2 separate regions of the Homo sapiens genome follow, and region 1 is linked to region 2. A link means that fine-mapping ties the variant in region 2 to the expression of a gene that starts in the linked region. Tissue or cell type: whole blood. Region 2 holds a variant in brackets; the other region holds the start of a gene. All regions are shown on one strand. Distances are between the middles of the regions. Region 1 holds the start of SHB (SH2 domain containing adaptor protein B). Region 2 has its middle 37 kb from the start of SHB.

Region 1 (2,500 bases), 37 kb before region 2:
TGGCGGGCCGCCGCTCGCTGCTGCTGCGGTAGAGATGCGGAGAGCCGGAGGACGAGGACGAGGACGCGGCGGCCCCCGCGCCCGAGGAGGCGCAGCAACAGCCCGCGGCGCCCGACGCGGACGAGGCCGAGAAGGCGCGCTGGACCCCGCCTGGCTCCCCGCTGCCGCCGCAGTAGTCCAGGCGGCACATGGCGCGCAGTTTGCGCAGCGACGAGCCAGGCCCGTTGTAGGGGTCCTCGAAGTCTCGCTCCTTCTGCGCGCGGTAGGCGCGGATGAGGTCGCTGGTGCTGCCGCTGTCGTCGGGCAGCGAGCCCGAAGAGGCTGAGAAGCAGGAGGCGGTGGCCGGACCGCAGGACGCCGAGGCGGCGGAGGAGGCCTGCGGCACGGCCTGGGGGGGCTGCGAAGGCCGCTCGCCTCGGCGCCGCTGCTCGCGGTAGTCTGGCCGCGGCGGCTGCGGGGGGCTCTTGGTCTTGCTGTTGCCCAAGCTGAAGTACTTGTTTAGCCACTTGGCCATGGCGAGAGGCCGCCTAGGGCCGCGGCGCGGGAGCCCGGTCCGCCGCCGCGGCCATTCGGGGGGCAGCGCTGCGGCGCAGGTCCCTCGGCGCCCCGGCCCCGGCGGGGGGCGTCCGGGGCGCCCGCTCCCGACGCCAAGTTCAAGTTCTTGCCGCCGCCGCCTCCTGCCGGCAGCTCTCTGGCTCCGGCGGCTGCAACACCTCCCTCCGCCTAGCGCCGCCCAAGCTAGGAATCTCGCGCCCCTCGTGGGCGCGTCTCATGGGGTCCCGGCCCACGCCCGGGGGAGAGCGGAAGGTCCGAGCGCTCCACGCCGCGGACCCTTTGGCCGTACGCCCCTCGCCGTGGATCGCGCTCCTGCCCCGTCGGAGCCGCAGCCTCCGCCTTGGCCGGGATCCGCGGCTGCCGCGGGAACTTCTCGGCGTCCTCGGCTCCCTTCTTCCTTCCTGCGAGCGCTGGGGAGAGCTCGGCCCCGCAGCGGAGGAGAATGCGGCCGGGAGAGACAGCGAGCGACGGAGGAAGGCAGCCGGCGCCCGCCGGAGCCCGCGCGCCCGTGCCCGTCCCGGCGGCGCCTGTCGCTGCCACTGCCGCCGCCTCCCGAGCCGCCGCGTGTGTGACACTCAGGCCGCCAGAGCCCGCCCCGCGCCGCCGCCCCGCCCCCCCGGAGCCCGCTCGCGCGCCCCGCCCCCCGCCCGCTCCCGCAGACCCAGCACCGCCCATCCCCGCGAGCCTGGCCCCGGGCCGCGGCCCAAGCCCCGCCCCCCTCGCGCCCGGGGCCGGGGTGGGCGCACCTCTCCGCTCCTGCACACGCCACCTCCCGCGGCTGCCCTGGCGCCAGCACCAGGGTCTTGCCCCAGGGCGCTGGGGTCCCGCCGCGCAGCCGGCTCCACCTAGCTTGCAGCTCGCCGCCGCCTCGGGCGAGAGGTTGCCTGGCGGAGCCTGCTACGCGCAGAGGCCAAACCTTTCCGCAGTCCCCCGGGACCCCGCGCGTTGTTCACTCCAGGGATCCCCCTGTCGGGGTTGAGGAGGGAGAGTGGATTAACACGGAACCTGTCTAGTTTACAGCGTGGCCCGTGTGGAGGAAATGCAGTGCCTAGTGCCCTTAGGGACAGAGTGGCTGTCCCTCTTCCTTAAAGGGACAGACTCCGGTTCAGCCCCGTGCGCCAGGTCTTCGGAGGAATCTTTATGCTAATGAGTGTATTAGCAGTCCAGATGACGGATGTGGTCGGGATAGGCGGTGGGAGCCGGGCCCAGCACCAATCCGAGAGCAAGGCTAGGGGAGGTCGGAATGTTTGCTTACCTTTTCACCTCTGAGGAAGTCGAGGCTTTAGCCCTGTTCGCTGCCAGCCGGCGGGGAGCAAGTTGTGGGAACATTTAATGCCTTATGTTGTAGGAGCTGGCAAGGATCCATTTAATACAGGACCTCGGCCGGGTGCGGTGTCTCACGCCTGTAATCCCAGCACTTTGGGAGGCCGAGGCGGGTGGATCACGAGGTCAGGAGTTTAATACCAGCCTGGCCAAGATGGTGAAACCCCGTCTCTACTAAAAATACAAAAATTAGCCGGGTGTGGTGGCGGGTACCTGTAATCCCAGCAGCTACTCGGAAGGCTGAGGCAGAGAATTGCTTGAACCTGGGAGGCAGAGGTTGCAGTGAGCCGAGATCACACCACTTCACTCCAGCCTGGGCGACAGAGGGAGATTCCGTCTCAAAAAATAAATACAGGACCTCATTTTACAGATGGAGAAACTGAGGCCCAGAGGAAAGTCACACAGGTGGACTTGGATGCCAGTTCCTAAGTCGGGTGGCACCATAATTATGTCTTTTCCAAGAGTCTCTTCTTTGCGATTTCAGATCATCCTTTGATTATTAACCAAAATTGAGGAAACAGTCCCAGGGAGTGGCCTGATTTGGTCAGTGTAACTTTTCCTGGGATCTGCACCCAGGGGAGGTGGCATGCTCCCTGTTGAGAGGGAAATGCTGCCTAAAGAT
Region 2 (3,008 bases):
CGGGCACTAGAGGGCCTGAATTGCCTTCATCAAAGCAAGAGATAATTATGTATCGCCATAATGCATTTTAAAAAATAAAAACAACCATCTACTTATGAGAGCTTTCCTAACAAAACAAATCTGAAGACCAAGAACTAAACTAGGAAGTTCTTTGAGCCTTTCAAAGTGGTGTCAGAGTATGGGCACTTAAAAAATAGATTCTGTCTAGCCTTTATTTTTATTTTTATTTGTTGATGGAGTCTCACTCTTGTCGCCCAGGCTGGAATGCACTGGTGCGATCTCAGCTCACCACAACCTCTGCCTCCTGAGTTCAAGCAATTCTCCTGCCTCAGCCTCTGGAGTAGCTGGGATTACAGGTGCCTGCCACCACGCCCAGCTAATTTTTGTATTTTTAATAAGGACAGAGTTTCACCATGTTGGCCAGGCTGGTCTTGAACTCCTGACCTCAGGTAATCCACCTGCCTCAGCCTCCCAAAGTGCTGGGATTACAGGTGTGAGCCACCATACCCAGCCCTGCCTAGCCTTTTTACTCTTTGTTTACATATAGTTCTAACACATTTGGCTGCCAGATTACTAGGCCATGGTGAATCCAAAAGGAGATGGAAGCTTCTGGAGGCAGGCTCCTCATTCCACCCTTTAAGTGATCTTGACTCATCCCCCTATTGGTTATCCCATACAAAGCTGCTGTTGGTGCCTATGCCGTCTGTGAAATTGTTCTAGGTCACCTTCAAATGGCCTGCCCTGTACTCCTCATCTTCCATTTTCCTGATTCCTATCCACCCCACCACTGCCCAGCCTTTTGTCCTCACACCTGGCCACTTCAATTGGTGGCCAGGTTTTGAACAAGCTATTCAAGCTGTGATTTTATTTTATTTTATTTTATTTTGAGACAGGGTCTCCCCTGTCACCCAGGAGTGCAGTGGCGGGATCATGACTCACTGCAGCCTCGACCTCCTGGGCTCAAGGGATCTTCCCATTCAGTCTCCCAAGTGACTGAGACTACAGGTGTGCGCCACCATGCCCTGCTAATTTTTGTATTTTTTGTGGAGACAGCATTTCGCCATGTTGCCCAGTCTGGTCTTGAAGTTCTGAGCTCAAGCGATCTGCCTGCCTCAGCCTCCCAAAGTGCTGGGATTACAGGCATGAGCCCCTGTGCCAGGCCAACTGTGATTTTAGTATTCAGCTTTTCCACTTACTGGTGGCATAGAAGTCACTTAACCACATTAAGCCTTGTTTTGTTTTAATCTGTAAAATGGGAATATAATGATTTCAATCGCACACATTTGTGTGTGAACGGTAGATGCCATAGTGTGTGTGAAGGAATAAGCAGTCACCAAGGGCAGCTGTTCTGATGATCTGGCCTCTGTTTGCCTGCACCATGGCAGTCGGTTGTGGCGGTCCCCAAGGGGAGACCTTGCTCTAAGCAGGCCCAGGATTTCAAAGGCAGGATTTAAGAGGACAACTGTGGTCATAATGGTAGTTGGAAAGACAGAGGTGAGAAAACTTTAAAACTCAGGCACTAAAGGACCCTTGTCTGGGTCCTTTAGCTCAATATCCCCTATCAACCTCCAAGAGTGTCATCTCCATAAAGCATCCTAGAGCCTAATGCCTGTGACTGTCCTCCCTTCATTTCCTAAGCAAAAGCGTATTGGTACTCATTTTGTGCCAGGTACTCCTGCCAAC[T/C]GGAAAGGTAGAGATAGAGACCTCTGCCTTCAGGGGGCTCCCATTCTTGTTGAGCCTAAGTCAGGGGAGGAGGAAAAGAATAATAATTTATAGATACTGTTTAGGCTGAGCCTGGTGGCTCATGCCTGTAATCCCAGCACTTTGGGAGGCTGAGGTGGGCGGATCACCTGAGGTCAGGAGCTCCAGACGAGCCTGGCCAACATGGCAAAACCCCGTCTCTAATAACAAATACAAAAATTAGCCAGCCATGCATCTGTAGTCCCAGCTACTTGGGAGGCTGAGGTAGGAGGATCGCTTGAACCCGGGAGGCAGAGGTTGCAGTGAGCTGAGATTGCACCACTGCACTCTAGCTTGGGCAACAGAGCCAGACTCTGTCTCAAAAAACAAAACAAAAGACATTTTATGGTGTGTTTTAGAAAGATTTACCTTCAAAATGATTATACTTCTTAGTTTATATCTGAAATAATTATAGTTTTAAATATTTTAGCCAAGGGAAATCTTCAGTTATCATTCAATTTCGTTTAAGTGGAATGGAGAGTATCAGCTTTTGCTAGGTAACGATGAGTCACATTTAATGAGTGTTTACCATATGTCAGGCTCTATCCTAAGTGCCTTATAGTTCTCTTAAGTTCTTTGATCCATAACAGCCCTATGCAATGGTACAAATATTATTCTTGTATTGAGTATGAGGAAACTGAAACACAGAGGGGTTTAGTAACTTGCCCAAGGTCACATAGCTAATAAGTGGCAAGCTTGGATTTGAACCCAGGGAGGCTGGCTCCTGAGAGAGAAGGAGCTCGTAAACACTATATTTTAGGGTGTCCCATATAACAAAGACTTACTTTCTTTGGATTTTTTTACCAAGTGATCATTCATGTAATGTATGTATGGACACTGTCACAGAATGTGCAGGTCAGTCAGGACAAAGTGGGAAAATCGGACACTTGATATCTTGATTCCTTCCTTTCCCCTTGCGATTTTACAAAGAAGGAAATTAAAGCCCAAAGACGGGGCAGGGGACCGGCCACCACCAGGAGGGTGATGGGCTCCCTGCCTCCCTCACAGTTTTGGCCGGGTGCAGTGGCTCACACCTGTAATCCCAGCACTTTGGGAGGCCGAGGCAGGTGGATCACTTGAGGTCAGGAGTTCAAGACCAGCCTGGTCAACATGGAGAAACCCCATCTCTACTAAAAATACAAAAATTAGCCAGGCATGGTGGTGCATGCCTATAATCTCAGCTACTCAGAAGGCTGAGCGGGAGAATCACTTGAACCCGGAAGGTGGAGGTTGCAGTGAGCCAAGATTGTGCCACTGCACTCTATCCT

The links. PIP is the estimated chance that this variant, and not a neighbour inherited with it, causes the effect.
Region 1: it holds the start of SHB, and the variant in region 2 is fine-mapped to the expression of SHB in whole blood (TOPMed, PIP 0.92).

The regions. Positions count from the first base shown.
Region 1 is chr9:38,068,132-38,070,631 of GRCh38, forward strand. SHB (SH2 domain containing adaptor protein B) reads right to left here and starts at 1,096. Exons shown (of 6, transcript NM_003028.3): 1 at 1-1,096. The coding sequence starts at 514. RefSeq lists an enhancer at 1-336 and silencers at 227-276, 697-1,506.
Region 2 is chr9:38,104,400-38,107,407 of GRCh38, forward strand. No RefSeq gene overlaps it. Among named protein-coding and RNA genes, the nearest start is that of SHB, 37 kb to the left of the region's middle. The variant T/C (reference allele first, on the strand shown) is at 1,684.